Linked DNA regions of Homo sapiens: region 2 is linked to region 1. The links come from fine-mapping of genetic effects on gene expression. A gene starts in region 1. The other region holds a variant in brackets. All regions are shown on one strand. Distances are from middle to middle.

Region 1 (8,325 bases):
ATATTGTATGATTCCACTTATATGAAATATCCAGAATAGGCAAATTCATAGAGACAGAAAGTAGATTCAGGCTATCAGCAATGGAAGGAAGTAGGGAATGGGCGTGTATTCCTTAATGTGTAGAGTTTTTATTTGGGGTGATGAAAAAATTTTGGAAATGGATAGTGGAGATGGTTGCACAACATTGTGAATGTAATTAATGCAACTAATTGTACACTTAAAAATTGGTAAGGCTGGGCGCAGTGGCTCATGCCTGTAATTCCAGCACTTTGGAAGGCCAAGGAGGGCAGATCACCTGAGGTCGGGAGTTCGAGACCAGCCTGATCAACATGGAGAAACCCCGCCTCTATTAAAAATATAAAATTAGCTGGGCATGGTGGCACATGCCTGTAACTGGGGAGTCTGAGGCAGGAGAATCACTTGAACCTGGGAGGCGGAGGTTGTGGTGAGCCGAGATCGTGCCATTGCACTCCAGCCTGGGCAACAAGAGCAAAACTGCGTATTAAAAAAAAAAAAAATATATATATATATATATATATATATATATATATATATATATATATATATATATAGTTAGGCTGGGTGCAGTGGCTCACACTTGTAATCCCAGTACTTTGAGAGGCCAAGGCAGGTGGATCACTTGAGGCCAAGAGTTTGAGACCAGCCTGGCCAACGTGGCAAAACCCTGCCTCTACTAAAAATACAAAAATTAGCCCAGTGTAGTGGCGTGCACCTGTAGTCCCAGCTACACAGGAGGCTGAGGCATGAGAATCCTTGAAGCCAAGAGGCGGAGGTTGTGGCGACTGAGATGGCGCCGCTTCACTCCAGCCTGGGCAACTGTCTCAAATAATAAAAATTTTTAAAAAATTGTTAAAATGGCAAATTGTTATACATAGTTCACCATAAGAAAAAAAATCTTGGGCTGGGCGTGGTGGCTCATGCCTGTAATCCCAGCACTTTGGGAGGCTGAAGTGGATGGATCATCTGAGGTGAGGAGTTCAAGACCAGCCTGGCCAATATGGTGAAACCCTGTCTCTACTAAAAATACAAAAATTAGGCCAGGCGCGGTGGCTCACGCCTGTAATCCCAGCACTTTCGGAGGACAAGGCAGGTGGATCACGAGGTCAGGAGATTGAGACCATCCTGGCTAACACGGTGAAACCCCATCTCTGATAAAAATACAAAAAATTAGCTGGGCATGGTGGTGGGTGCCTGTAGTCCTAGCTACTCAGGAGGCTGAGGCAGGAGAATGGCGTGAGCCTGGGAGGCGGAGCTTACAGTGAGCCAAAATCGCACCACTGCACTCCAACCTGGGCAACAGGGCGAGACTCCATCTCAAAAAAAAAAAAAAAAAAAAAAAATTAGGTGGGCATGATGGCGGGAGCCTGTAATCCCAGCTACTCTGGAGGCTGAGGCAGGAGAATCACCTGATGCCAGGAGGTGGAAGTTGCAGTGAGCCAAGATCGCGCCACTGTACTCCGACCTGGGTGACAGAGCAATACTCTGTCTCAACAAAAAAGGAAAAAAAAGAAACAGTATGTCTGAGCAGCAATTACTGAATTATATTTCTTTTCCACTTAATTCCTTGGTATGACAGGCTTAATGGAGACTAATTATCTTCTACTGAAAATATTTGTGATCTCTTGGTTATAAGGAGACTATTTTCCTTCTGGAAGTTAGAGATGTAATATTTAAAGAAAAATTAATTTCAAAATTGAGTGTTCCAGATGGCAGGAAAACAACTGTGAACTTCACTGTTTGTCAAGCTCAAATATACCCTGTGATATTTTCTCTTCCAAGTTTATACTCGTCTCTTTGCTATTGTAATTTATTTGGATTACAAGATTCTCAGGCTTTCAGATTCCACTTTGCATATTTGTCTCATACTTTAATATCTTTTCCAATTGTCACATTCGTTTTAAGAGTTTCAGTTAATAGTGAATTATTAATTTTTACTAAAGAGATAATTTTATAAGTATTACTTTAGTTTCTACCTTCAAATATTTCATTACCTGTTACACTTTGTGCCCAGTAGTTTAATGCACACTATATCATAAAATAATGTTGGTTCTAGGTACCACTGTATTTTGTTCCTGGCATAAAAGAAAAAAGGTTTTCTGTTGCCTCTTATTGAACCTTTTTGCATTCAAGAGATCCAACTTAGGCTGGGTGCAGTGGCTCACACCTATAATCCCAGCACTTTGGGAGGCCGAGGTGGGTGGATCACTTGAGGGCAGGAGTTCAAGACCAGCCTGGCCAACATGATGAAACCCTGTCTCTACTAAAAATACAAAATATTAGCCGGGCTTGGTGGCAGCTGCCTGTAATCCCAGCTACTCGGGAGGCTGAGGCAGGAGAACTGGTTGAACCTGGGAGACGGAGGTTGCAGCGACCTGAGATGGGGCCACTGCACTCCAGCCTGGGCGACAGAGTGAGACTGTCTCAAAAAAAACCGAAACAAAAAAAAAACAAAAAGGAGATCCAATTTACAAAATAAAAAATTTAAAAACAAGAGAATTAAAAATGTAAACAATAAATAGGAGATATGGCAACATTTTATCTGCCCTGCTGTGGTGACAATTAGCAGAACGCAAGCTAAGGTTTGCAGCCTGGAGCTGGCTTTGTCCCTTACCTTGCCATTGAGAACGATGTTCTGGCTTCCACACAACACTGACTGGCGACTGACTTTGTTCCCAGATGCCTAAAAGAAAACAACGGAAAACCGGGGAAAGCAAACTTAATAGGTTTCTGGACTACAGGTTTCCATCAAGAAAGCTCCCATTTGAGAGAAAAAAACATAAAGTGGGGTGCTGTCCACAATGGAGTGAGTCCAGGATATCAAAAAAGCAATGATGGATTAGGAAACTATGGCTGAGTATGGTGGCTCATGCCTGTAATCTCAGCACTTTGAGAGGCTGAGGCAGACGGATCCCTTGAGGACAGGAGCTCAAGACCAGCCTAGGCAACATAGTGAGACCCCTTCTCAACAAAAAAAAAATTTTTTAATTAGCCGGGCATGGTGGCGCGTGTCTGTAGTCCCAGCTCCTCAGAAGGCTGAGGCTAGAGGATCGCTTGAGCCTGGAAGGCCGAGGCTGCAATGAGCTGTGATTGTGCCACTGCACTCCAGCCTGGGCAACAGAGTGAGAACCTGTCTCAAAAAATAAAAACACAAAGGAAACTAGGGACTCAAGGAATAAACTCATAATTTGAATGTCTATAGCTTGGTGGCATCAGACAGACGCGGATTCAAATCCCACTTCCACGCGTGGGCTTTACGGCCTTAAAACGAGGATAATGACTATGAGTATCAGAGTTGTGAGAAAGCAAAGAAAACCAAAATAACGATAGTAACGTTAATTGACCACTTGCCCTGTTTCCAAGATTTTACAAACATATCATGTACTGATCATAAAGAACCAAATCGGCAGGGTGCGGTGGCTCACGCCTGTAATGCCAGCACTTTGGGAGGCCGAGGCGGGTCGATCACCTGAGGTCAAGAGTTAGGGACCTGCCTGGCCAACACGGTGAAACCCCGTCTCTACCAAAAAATACAAAAATTAGCCGGGCGTGGTGGCGGGCGCCTGTAATCCCAGCTACTCGAGACGCTGAGGCAGGAGAATCGCTTGAACCCGGGAGGCGGAGGTTGCAGTGAGCAGAGATCGCGCCGCGGCCCTCAGGACTGGGCGACAGAGTCTCCGCCCCCCAACCCCCTTCCTCAAAAAAAAAGAACCGAATCGTTTTTAGCGCAAGTTAACAGATACAAAAGGCAGTGTAAAAGGGCCCGAAGTCCGAGCTGTAATTCGTATGAACAGGATGGGACTTGTCCTATCCTCCCGAAGGCACTTTACCCCTATGAGAAAATCAGGAATAAATACAAAAGGCCTCAACTGGCCAAGCGCGGAGTAAACAGCAAAGCCAGACGGTACACGGGGCATCGCTAGATAATCCGGGACTAATGGCCAAAGGGACAGGGGTTGGTGGGGTAGGGGCAGGTTGGGAACGCCGACCAGGCCTCAAAGGGACGCAGGGTTGGAAAGAGGAGGATACATATCTGGACCCGCGCACCGTCTCGATGTACTCAGACTTGTTGTAGAGCAGCTCGCCCAACTCCATGGCCGCCGCCTCCTTCCCTCAGCCCCGGATCCTGTCAGAGTCAGTCGGTCAGTCTTTCAGAGATTCCGGCTACTTCCGGCCGCTCCTCCACTTCCGCTCCAGGTGGCCCACTGGGACTCATCGACAGCGCGGCTCTCCTTTAGGCGGCCTCGCTCCACTGCTCGGCCGTCTACGGCTGCGCGTGCGCAGGCCGAATGGTGGATTTAATTGGCCGGAGTTTAGGGCGCGCTTGGCCCGCGTGGGTCAGCTGATCGCGCACTGAGGGTGCGATCCCGGGCTCCCCATTCCTTCCTGGGGCGCCTCCCCGGCCCAGGGCCAACTGGGTCCCGGTGTCGGCAGGCCTGGGGTCGGCGACGGCTGCTCTTTTCGTTCTGTCGCCTGCCCGATGGACGAGCCTCCCGGGAAGCCCCTCAGCTGTGAGGAGAAGGAAAAGGTGCCGGGGGTGCGGGAAGGGCGGACGCAGGACTCTGACCCCGCTTTCCCAGGGTTTTAGGCCTGGCTTTGTGTCCTCGGCAGTCCGAGGGCAGCAGTATCATCTGACCACCCCCTCCTCTTAGGGCTGAGGGGGCACAGAAAATGAAAATGTGGAAATAGCGTGGTGCTCACGTGGTGGCGTTTAAAGAACAAATTTCATTACAGTAGCAGCGCATTAATACAATGTGTAACAGTTTGTAGATAAAGCTGTATCGACACCCTTGCTCCTCCCCCCTCCCACACCCTCAATCTTTACTTCTCCCCCCGGACGGCCTCAAGTAAATCTTTTAAGTCTGGTACTTCCAGGTCCTTTCGTGTGTTAATGTGGGTGGTGGAGGAGGGGCGTATCCCTAACCACCAAAAAGGAATCCTATGTATATTTTTTGGAGAAGGGAATGTTCATAAATGGTATGATCTGAATGGTTCTGCAGGTTCCGTTTAGCTTTCCTGTCAGGACATGTTTATCTACCTTGCTTTCTTTTTTAAGTTCTAGACAGTATGTTGTAGTTTGGAAGTGCCCTCGTTTTGTTTCTTTTTTCTTCCTTTTCTGTTTTTCTTCTTTTTTGAGACAGAGTCTCACTCTGCCACCCATGCTGGGGTGCAGTGGCGCGATCTCGGCTCACTGCAACCTCCGCTTCCTGGGATCAAGCGACTCTCCTGCCTCAGCCTCCCGAGTAGCTGGGATTACACGAACCCGCCACTGCACCTGGCCTTGGAAGTGCCCTTGCTTCTTTAGACTGTACTTTACTGATAGACTTTTAGGATGTTTCCAGCTTGTGCTGATGTTATTCTTATCCTGGCTTACCTTCTGGTGGAGGTGAGAAAGATCATTTATAAGTAAACAAGATAATCCCCAGACATTGATAAGATTGGTGGGAGGCCAGTCTCCCTGGCTCACGCCTGTAATCCCCGCACTTTGGGAGGCCGAGATGGGCAGATCGCTTGAGCTCAGAGTTTGAGACCAGCCTAGGCAACGTAGTGAAACCCCGTCTCTACTAAAAATACAAAAATTAGCCGGGTGTGGTGACGCCAGCCTGTAGTCCCAGAGGCTCAGGCCTCAGAGGCTGATGCACGAGAATCGCTTGAACCAGGGGACGCTGAGGTTGCAGGGAGCTGCCGAGATCGCGCCACTGCACGCCAGGCTGGACGACAGAGTGAGACTGTCTCTCAAAAAAAAAGAAAATTCCTTACGGTTGGCAACTTGTCTAGTAGCATGTTTTGCACATAGGTTTTGTTTTGTTTGTTTTTGAGACAGACTCTCCGCTCTATCTCCCAGGCTGGAGTGCAGTGGCTCGATCTTGGCTCACTGCAACCTCCGCCTCTCAGGTTCAAGCGATTCTCCTGCCTCAGCCTCCCGAGTAGTTGGGATTACAGACGCCCAACACCACGCCGGGCTAATTTTTGTATTTTTAGTAGAGACAGGGTTTCTCCATGTTGGCCAGGCTGGTTTTGAACTCCTGACCTCAGGTAATCTGCCCGCCTTGGCCTTCCAAAGTGCTGGGATTACAGGTGTGAGCCACTGCACCCGGCCTTTTTTTTTTTTTTTTTTTTCAAGCAGAGTCTCGCTCTGTTGCCCAGGCTGGAGTGCAGTGGCGTGATCTAGGCCCACTGCAACCTCCGCCTCCGGGTTCAAGCAATTCTCCTGCTTCAGCCTCCTACAGGCACCCACCACCACACCCGGCTCATTTTTGTATCTTTAGTAGAAGCAGGATTTCACCATGTTGGCCAGGCGGGTCTCGAACTCTTGACCTCAAATGATCCACCCACCTCAGCTTCCCCAAGTGTTGGGATTACAGGCGTGAGCCACTGCGCCCAGCTGAGTAGGTCTTTTCTTTTTTTTAAAAAAGGCATGTATGGAGGATGGAAATCTTGATGTTTTGTTGGTTGAAAGATGAGTACAGCTAAAAAGTTGCTAAAAAGCAGAAAAACCGAGGCTGGCTTTGCTGCTGAGAGAATCCTTTGAAGCAAAGAAGCCAGAGAGACGAGGGAATCTAGGCTTTCAGAGAACAGTAATTTGATTCAGCCCAATTCATTTATTTATTTAATAAATATTTGTTAAATGCCTACTGTGTGCCTGGCTGGAGATTGAGCAATGATAGCTCCAACCTCACTGGCCTTCTGCGTGTTCCTCAAACGTAGGTAACCTATTCCACTGCAGAGCTTTTATATTTGTGGTTCCCTCTGCCTGGGGTACCGTTCCCTCTGATCTTCCCAAAACTAGCTCCTTCCTCATTCAGTCTTAGGCTCAAATGATAGTCAAAAATGCCTCCCTGACCACTGTAACTAAAGTAGTCCCTGTCAGTAGGCCAGTAACTCTCTCATATCACTCTGTTTATCTGTGTATTTTTTTACCTTGTAAAATCATTTCTGTTTGTTTTCTTATTTATTATCTGTCTCCCTCACTGTATGTAAATTGCATCTAGAATAGCATCTGGAGCACTAATTGACACATAGTGGGTATCAATTATTATTCCAGGTACTAGAGATACCTGGACCATTAACGGATAAATAGAAGATTCATTTGTTGAGTGACTGAGGATGGCAGTTCCTGCTACCTTCAAGGATCTGGATGATGGGGAGAAACAGAGAACATAGTGTGAGAATACTGTGGTAAGGAAAGTACAGAGGACTGGTAGAGTGTCTAACCTAGATTTGGAGAAGGACCTAGAAGTCTATCCCAGGGAAATAAAAATCTAAGCTAAGGTTTGAGGAATCAGTAGGAATTGGCAAAGGAAGGACATGTTCCAGATGATAGGAACAGGTTATGCAAAGATCCTGAAATGGTCAGAGCTTGGTGCTTTTTGAGAACCAAAAGTAGATTGTTATGGACCAGTGCTACTCCCTGCCTCTTGCCAAGGGACCCCGCCAAGCACTGCATCCCTTCCCTCTGACTCCACCTTTCCACTTGCCCAGTATTGTTGGTGTTTTTCTTCTTCCAGTTAAAGGAGAAATTAGCATTCTTGAAAAGGGAATACAGCAAGACACTAGCCCGCCTTCAGGTAAGTGAATCGTATTCTCAAATTAAGGTGTTATAGTACAAACAATTTAAAAACAGTTCTTGACTCTATAAAACTTTAAAGAAAACGTATTTCTGGGGCTGTTTTTGTCTCCTCTAGCGTGCCCAAAGAGCTGAAAAGATTAAGCATTCTATTAAGAAAACAGTAGAAGAACAAGATTGTTTGTCTCAGCAGGATCTCTCACCGCAGCTAAAACACTCAGGTAAATCTAGACCATTCACTTATGCCTGCTTTATTATTCATTTCCCAGGTATATTTTGGCTATTGTTCTTTTTCCCACAGTGTGAAGATAATGACTAGCAATAGACGCTTTAATTTTAATTTTAATTTTAATTTTATTTTTTTGAGACAGAGTCTCACTCTTTGTTACCCAGGCTGGAGTGCAGTGGCACAATCTTGGCTCACTACAACCTCCAACTCCCAGGCTCAAGTGATTCTCGTGCCTCAGCCTCCTGAGTAGCTGGGACTACAGGCACGTGCACTACCACACCTGACTAATTGTTATATTTTTAGTAGAGATGGGGTTTCGCCATGTTGGCCAGGCCGGTCTTGAACCCCTGGCTTCAAATGATCTGTCTGCCTGGGCCTCCCAAAGTGCTGGGATACAGGTGTGAGCCACTGTGCCCGGCTGCAATATATTCTAATTAACATAAAATTCATATGCCGTAAAATCTATAGTCTCTATTTTCAGTTAGACTGTTTATTCTTTTTCCCTCTCTTG
Region 2 (8,243 bases), 52 kb before region 1:
TAAGCAAATAATCCAGAGGAATGCTAAGGTGCAACTTGGTGTTTTCTCACTGATCCCTAATGCTGATTTTATTATTATTATTATTATTATTATTATTATTATTATTAATTATTGAGATAGGGTCTTGCTGTGTCACTCAGGCTGAAATGTAGTGGCGTGATCTCAGCTCACTGCAACATCTGCTTCCCAGGCTCAAGCCAATCCTCCCACCTCAGCCTACTGAGTAGCTGGATGACAGGCACACAACACCATGCCTGGCTAGTTTTTTTTGTAAAGATGGGGTTTCATCATGTTCCCAGGCTGGTCTTGAACTCAAGTGATCCACCTTTCCCGGCCTCCCAAAGTGCTGGGATTACAGGTGTGAGCCACGGTGCCCAGCCCTAATGCTGATTTTCATTTACTCTTCCCAGAGCTGATTGTAAAAACTGAAGCTAAAAACTCTTATAAAGTAGAGTGTTCTCAGGACCACCGCACTGCACAACTCTAGGGGTGCCATATATGTTTTGCCATATGAATAGTGCCCGTTGGAGCTGAGCAGGACACAGCCTGCCCAGATTTGCCAGGGTCAGAGTGAGACGTCTCTCACAGGCTGCCCAAAGGGAAGGGCAGTAATTGTCCCAACCTACAGATCTTTGCCCACCTGAGCCGACCCCACCCATCCTAATGGGAAACCGAGGCCTCTAGGGGTACCCCTGCTGCCCTGGAACTAACTCTGGGCAGGTTAGCATCCAATGCCCACTGCTTCTGTCCGGTCCAGTCTTTTTTCTGTGGCTATACTCACTCTCATCACTCTTCCAACTGCCAGAACTCACCTTACCTTGAAGTTGAAGCTGATTCAGTGTCAATTAAAAGGATTCAGTTACAACTGGTGGAGGTGGGCAGAATGGCAGAGGATGTAAAGGGAAAACAAAGCAAAACAAAACAAACCTGTGCAGAAGATGCTGAAAGAGGGAGAGAAATAAAAGAGGATAATATAGCAAACATCACCTCCACCCGTTCTTTCCATATATCCATTTAATCCTCACAATAATATTGTGTGGGCTCTTTAGCTTTAGCTCCCCACTCTACAGATGAGAATACCGAGGGCACAGAAGTGAGGAATTTGCCTAAGTAGACAAAGAATCAGTGGCAGCACCAGGCATTGGATCCAGACAGTCTGGCACTTGGGCCCTTGCTCTTACCCACTGCACCAGGCTGAGCATGGGAGGGTGGAGGCCCAGAAAATGTCAAGGTGAGTCTGGACTGGGCCAGTGGCCGGCAAAGGTGGGCAGAGGCTCCCTGAGTCACCACCCTCCTCTCCCCCAGCTGAGCAACTCACCGTAGTGGGGAAGATTTCCTTCAATCCCAAGGACGTGCTGGGCCGCGGGGCAGGCGGGACTTTCGTTTTCCGGTGAGTGGCAGCCAGGAGCCAAGCTGGGGACATGGCACTCACAGCCCTCGTGGGCACTGTCCCCTGGAGAGACATTCTTTCAAAGACTCCCCGAGGTGGGTACAGGTTGATCCCTCACTCGCCAGTCCTGCTCTTTCCTTTATCTGTTTTTTTTTTTTTTTTTTTTTTTTTGAGTCTTGCTCTGTTGCCCAGGCTGGAGGGCAGTGGTGCAATCTCAGCTCACTGCAACCTCCGCTTCCCAGGTTCAAGCAATTCCGGGCCTCAGCCTTCCCAGTAGCTGGGATTACAGGTGTGTATCACCATGCCCGGCTAATTTTTATATTTTTTTTAGTAGAGATGGGGGTTTCACCATGTTGGCCAGGCTGGTCTCGAACTCCTGACCTCAAGTGACCCGCCCGCCTTGGCCTCCCAAAGTGCTAGGATTACAGGTGTGAGCCACCATGTTTGTCCCTTTATCTGCTTTCCCTGAATGCCCCCCTGCCCCCGCCATCACCCACTTTCCAGGGGACAGTTTGAGGGACGGGCAGTGGCTGTCAAGCGGCTCCTCCGCGAGTGCTTTGGCCTGGTTCGGCGGGAAGTTCAACTGCTGCAGGAGTCTGACAGGCACCCCAACGTGCTCCGCTACTTCTGCACCGAGCGGGGACCCCAGTTCCACTACATTGCCCTGGAGCTCTGCCGGGCCTCCTTGCAGGAGGTGAGTTGCATTGCGGTTCAGGGAGGGTGAGTGGGAAGGTCCGGGCTGGAGAGTGATGCTTTGGCCCTTGCTGCTGCTCAGTACGTAGAAAACCCGGACCTGGATCGCGGGGGTCTGGAGCCCGAGGTCGTGCTGCAGCAGCTGATGTCTGGCCTGGCCCACCTGCACTCTTTACACATAGGTACCCGCACTTCCCCTGCCTCCCGCTCCCTGTCCTTAGCCCCTGCCTTCCGCCCTCAGCAACCAGCTTTCTTTCTGCCCCTCTCCCACAGTGCACCGGGACCTGAAGCCAGGAAATATTCTCATCACCGGGCCTGACAGCCAGGGCCTGGGCAGAGTGGTGCTCTCAGACTTCGGCCTCTGCAAGAAGCTGCCTGCTGGCCGCTGTAGCTTCAGCCTCCACTCCGGCATCCCCGGCACGGAAGGCTGGATGGCGCCCGAGCTTCTGCAGCTCCTGCCACCAGACAGTCCTGTGAGTCTATCCACCAAGTCCTCCAGGCACACAGCTGCCCCAGGCTGCAGGAATCCGTCCCTGTCCCAGTTCCCCTCCTGAGGAGACTCCATGACACTTGCTGTGTGACTTTGAGCTGCTCCTCCAAGCTTGTTTCCCTTAAAGAAGGGATAATTTGTCCCTCCTTCTACAGCAGTATCAGGACTGTTTTGCCACCCAGGGGACATTAGGCAATGTCTGGAGACATTTTTGACTGCCATGACTTGGGAGGGAGGGGCTACTGGCATCTGCTGGAAATGCTGCTAAATGTCTTACAGGACAGGACAACACCCAACACAAAGAACTAACAAAATGCCAGTTGTGCTGAGGTTGGGAAACCCTGAGCTAGAAAATGGTTTGTAATCTTCACTGTGCTTCACAACCACTGCGCAACTTAAAAAAAGAATGCCCATTGCCGGGTGCGGTGGCTCACGCCTGTAATCCCAGCACTTTGAGAGGCCGAGGCAGGCAGATTGCTTGAGCTCAGGAGTTCGAGACCAGCCTGGGTAACCTAGGGAGACCTCGTCTCTACCAAAAGCACACACAATTTAGCCGGTGTGGGTGTGTGCATCTGTGGTCCCAGCTACTTGGGAGGCTGAGGTGGGAGGATCGCTTGAGCCTGGGAGGTGGAAGTTCCAGAGTCAAGATCACACTACTGCACTCTAGCCTGGACAACAGAGTGAGACTCTTTCTCTCAAAAAACAAAAAACAAACAAACAAACAAAACCCCAGGCCCCACACCCCGTGATTTTTACCTAATTGCCTGGGTCATTTTTATGTGGAGCCAAGTTCCAGAACCACTGGTATCGAAGGTTTTGGAGGGCATCAGATGAGCTAATTAGTTGATACACAGAGCAGCGTCTGACCCACACAGACACTTGCGTTTGGGACCCCTGAATTACGGATTTTGAGTCACAGTGTGTGGGCGGAAGTTGAAGCCAGAGAAATGGATGCCAATCACACAAAAGGACAGTCACCAGGGAAGGCTGCCCCCACTCCTAAAGTTGAGAGAAAGCTCAAAGTGGTGAGCAGGGCTCAAGGACTAAATGCATGATGTCATGAGACTATACAGTTTATATTTAAATTAGTGGCCTATATATATATATATTTTTTTTTTTTTGAGATGGAGTTTCGCTCTTGTTGCCCAAGCTGGAGTGCAGTGACATGATCTCAGCTCACTGCAACCTCCACCTCCTGGGTTCAAGTGATTCTCCTGCCTCAGCCTCCCTAGTAGCTGGGACTATAGGCAGGTGCCACCATGCCCAGTTAATTTTTGTATTTTTAGTAGAGATGGGGTTTATGCCATGTTGGCCAGGCTGGTCTCGAACTCCCAGCCCTCAGGTGATTCACCTACCTCGGCCTCCCAAAGTGCTGAGATTATAGGCATGAGCCACTGTGCTTGGCCCTATATATATATATTTTTGAGACAGGGTCTTGCTCTGTCATGGAGTGCAGTCATACCATCACAGCTTACTGCAGCCTTAAACTCCTGGGCTCAAGGGATCCTCTCACCTCAGCCTCCCAAGTAGCTGGGACTACAGGCACACAACATGGCACCCAGCTAATTTTTGTATTTTTTTGTAGAGGCAGGGTCTCACCATGTTGCCCACGCTGGTCTTGAACTCCTGGCCTCCCAAAGTGCTGGGATTACAAGGTGTCAGCCACATGCCTGGCCCAATATTTTAACATTTGAGAAATTCCACATAAAATTTGGATTTCTGGATTTTCTTTAAAAAAAAAAAAAATCAGAATCGCTTGAGGCCAAAAGTTCAAGATCGGGCTGGGTAACATAAGAAGACCCATCTCTACAAACAATTTAAAAATTGGTCAGGCATGGTGGCACATGCCTGTAGTCCCACCTACTCAGGCCGAGGTAGATTGCTTGAGCCCAGGAGTTTGAGGTTACAGTGAGCTGTGGTTGCGCCACTGCACTCTAGCCTGGGCAACATGAGCAAAGCCCCAACAAAAAAAAAAACAAAATCAGCTCTGCCACCCTGGAGAGTCCCCTGGTGACAACCGGTTGAAGCTAAGGACCAGCTGCCCCTGCAGAAAAAACCCATGCCAGGTCACCACAGTCCTCCTGATTGCCTTATTGCCTCATGTATGGCACCCACTTATGTAACCCTATACCCTGCAGGAATGAAGCTTGGAAACCTGAACTAGCTCAGTAAGGGCAAAGGTTTTGGATGAAAACCATGGGCCCCCTATAGTAGTGTAGAGGGGAGGGATCTAGAGCCAAGGAGATGCTGCCCAGGAAGCATCTTGAGTTC[C/A]AGTCTGAGCCAAACCCCTGGCAGCTCTATCAGCCCATGGGAGAATTTAGCCAGGCTGACTTCCTGGAAGCAGAGATTTCCTTCTCATGCCCATCTCTCTGGCTCCAGACCAGCGCTGTGGACATCTTCTCTGCAGGCTGCGTGTTCTACTACGTGCTTTCTGGTGGCAGCCACCCCTTTGGAGACAGTCTTTATCGCCAGGCAAACATCCTCACAGGGGCTCCCTGTCTGGCTCACCTGGAGGAAGAGGTCCACGGTGAGGGAGCCCTGGGCAGGGCAGAGAAGGGAGGACGGGCAAGACGCTAGGCAGGCCTGAAGCAGACTCTCCTCCTCCTCTTCCATCCTCCAGACAAGGTGGTTGCCCGGGACCTGGTTGGAGCCATGTTGAGCCCACTGCCGCAGCCACGCCCCTCTGCCCCCCAGGTGCTGGCCCACCCCTTCTTTTGGAGCAGAGCCAAGCAACTCCAGTTCTTCCAGGTCAGAAGGAAAGCTTGGGAATGGCCCCCAAAAGTCCTAAGTTTGGGTCCTGGGCAATAAGAAATGGGATATTAGATTAGCTGAGGGAAAACAGGAAGAGCTACCTGGTCCTGGGAGCCTGGCTCTTTCCCTAAACTGGGAGCCAGCCTGGACTCCTAAACTCCGCCATCTTGGCACTCTCTGGTCCATTCACTGCCAGCTTTGCCAGCCCCAGCTGCCCTTTGTATGGGAATATAGCCCATTCCTTTCCACCCGAGTCATCATTCATGCTGTGCCAGTAGCCCACTGCACTTGAGTGAACTTGAGCAAGAGACTTCATGCCTCTGAACTGCAGTTTGCTCAATCTGTAGAATAGGGACAGCAGTACCAAGCTCATAGGTTGGTGGTAAATAACAGAGGCGTGGCACAGAGAAGCTTCACGCCCCCAGAGGCAATGATCCTTGTCAGTCACCCTAAACTACTCCTGTAAGACAACACACTCCTGGCTATGTGGCCTCTGGCCCCGGTCACAAGGCTCAGGAGCTCTCTGGGCCCCAGGACGTCAGTGACTGGCTGGAGAAGGAGTCCGAGCAGGAGCCCCTGGTGAGGGCACTGGAGGCGGGAGGCTGCGCAGTGGTCCGGGACAACTGGCACGAGCACATCTCCATGCCGCTGCAGACAGGTAGAGGCCATACTCAGGTGGGCCTGGGCGGTGGAGGGGAGTGGGCCTGGGCGGTGGAGGGGAGTCTAGCAGGGACGGTTTTGCCACTGAATTCCCTGTCCACAGATCTGAGAAAGTTCCGGTCCTATAAGGGGACATCAGTGCGAGACCTGCTCCGTGCTGTGAGGAACAAGGTATGTGTTGGGGCCTGGGTGGGCCTGGGTCTTGGGAAGGCCTGGCCGCAGCTGAGCCAGGGTTCTCTGCTCTACCTACCCACAGAAGCACCACTACAGGGAGCTCCCAGTTGAGGTGCGACAGGCACTCGGCCAAGTCCCTGATGGCTTCGTCCAGTACTTCACAAACCGCTTCCCACGGCTGCTCCTCCACACGCACCGAGCCATGAGGAGCTGCGCCTCTGAGAGCCTCTTCCTGCCCTACTACCCGCCAGACTCAGAGGCCAGGAGGCCATGCCCTGGGGCCACAGGGAGGTGAGGTGGGCTGGATGCCACACAGATGGTCTCCGTGCTGGCTCACTGAAGAGCTGAGCCTGTGGCTGGCCTCAGAATCAGGCTGGGTGCAGTGGCTCACACCTGTAATCCCAGCATTTTGGGAGGCTGAGTGAGAGGATCACTTGAGCTCAGGAGTTCGAGACCAGCCTGGCCAACATGGCAACACCCCATTTCTACAAAAAATTTGTAAAATTAGCCAGGCATGGTGGCGCACGCCTGTAGTCCCAGCTGCTTGGGAGGCTGAGGTGGGAGAATCACTTGAGCCCAGGAGTTCGAGGCTGCAGTGAGCCAGGATCATGCCACTGCACTCCAGCCTGGTCCACAGAGAGACACTGTCACCCCCTTTCCCCCACAAGACTGGCAGAGGCTGGGCAGCCTGGGGCTGATGAAGCAGAGATGTTCGCTGGATCCCAGGCCCTGGCACCCCTCAGGAAATACAAGAAAAAGAATATTCACATCTGTTTAATGTGCATAAAGCCAAGGAAAGGACAGTTCCGAATTCAATAGAAATATTCTGTACAATTCATATGGTGGGGTTGAGGGGGAGGGGGACAAGGCTGTAGAACCCACACCCGAACATGTACAAAAATAACTTATACAGCAACCCCCACCTGCAAGGATGATGCAGCTCTGCCCAGCCACCGGGGCTGGGGGGCACACTGCAGACATGGCACCGCGGGAGCCAACCAGTATGGGCCCCAGATGCAGGTGGGAGTGAGGAGGGCACCAGTCCGGAGGGGAGGGCAGCTATTAGGAGGCCTTGAGACGGTTGCTGGCCGAGCGTGAGCTCAGCAGCTTGTCCACCATAGTGCGGGCGTAGCGGAGCCGGCTGGCCAGCTCCTTGCAGCAGCCGTACTCCTCCAGGAGACTCAGGCGGTATGTGCGGAAGTCCCGCTTCTCGTCGATGTAGGTCACGGCTGCCATCAGTGGGCACAAGATGAGCTTGGTGTGATCCTGCAAGAGAAGAGCAGCAGGGGTTGGCGATCCCAGAGGCCAGTGTATGTTAGGGAGTAGAGGGAAGACACAACAGGTTATAGGTACCTGAGCCGCTCACTCCACATTCAACCCACATGGGCCACTGCCAGGCATGCGGAGCCTACCCCAGCTCTCTCCTGCGCCTGGTGACCTCCAGCTCACCTGGAAGAAGTTGATCTGCACGCTGCCGTTGCTGAGGTGCAGGATGATGGCGCTGCGGGTGCGGAACCAGGTCCGTAGGTAGGGCAGCCGGGCGAGCTCATCACCTTCGCGCGGCGTGATGTTGGCACCTGCCTTCAGCAAGTGCTCGCTCATGTAATTGCGGAAATATTTAAGGAGGGTGATCTGGATGAAAAGTAGGTAAGGGGTTCCAGAATTAGAGTCTGATCCTCCAGCACAGGTCCCACTTCTGCAACACCACCCCCCATGGGCCGGACGGCACTCACCTTCTTCATCAAGGAGTTGGGATGGGAACTCACGGTGAGGTAGGACTCAGTGCCGTCACGCTCTATGTACTGCAGGCTGTCACCATCATTGTAGAGGATGAGGCGTGTTGAGTCATTGAAGAGCACCCCCACGCTGTTATCACAGAGCTGATACCCTAGGGATCGGTGGAGAGAGGTCTCAGAAAGGGGGAATAGAAAGTGGGGAGTGGGACCGGGCGTGGTGGCACATGCCTGTGATTCCAGCACTTTGGGAGGCTGAGGGAGGAGGATTGTTTGAGCCCAGGAGTTTGAGACCAGCCTGGGCAACGTAATGAGACCCCATCTCTACAAAATATTTTAAAAATTAGCTGAG

The links. PIP is the estimated chance that this variant, and not a neighbour inherited with it, causes the effect.
Region 2: its variant is fine-mapped to the expression of DCTN5 in whole blood (TOPMed, PIP 0.99).

What each region holds. Positions count from the first base shown.
Region 1 is chr16:23,637,331-23,645,655 of GRCh38, reverse strand. DCTN5 (dynactin subunit 5) reads right to left here and starts at 4,190. Exons shown (of 6, transcript NM_032486.4): 1 at 4,066-4,190; 2 at 2,633-2,701. The coding sequence starts at 4,113. PALB2 (partner and localizer of BRCA2) reads left to right here and starts at 4,346. Exons shown (of 13, transcript NM_024675.4): 1 at 4,346-4,546; 2 at 7,527-7,586; 3 at 7,704-7,806. The coding sequence starts at 4,499. RefSeq lists an enhancer at 3,128-3,917 and a silencer at 5,045-5,279.
Region 2 is chr16:23,689,041-23,697,283 of GRCh38, reverse strand. It overlaps PLK1 (polo like kinase 1), which reads right to left. Exons shown (of 10, transcript NM_005030.6): 8 at 7,892-8,046; 9 at 7,608-7,790; 10 at 6,917-7,424. The coding sequence ends at 7,221. It overlaps ERN2 (endoplasmic reticulum to nucleus signaling 2), which reads left to right. Exons shown (of 22, transcript NM_033266.4): 14 at 1,306-1,390; 15 at 1,895-2,084; 16 at 2,166-2,265; 17 at 2,357-2,556; 18 at 4,953-5,100; 19 at 5,194-5,321; 20 at 5,859-5,982; 21 at 6,088-6,155; 22 at 6,241-6,974. The coding sequence ends at 6,453. Among named protein-coding and RNA genes, the nearest start is that of PLK1, 14 kb to the right of the region's middle. The variant C/A (reference allele first, on the strand shown) is at 4,845.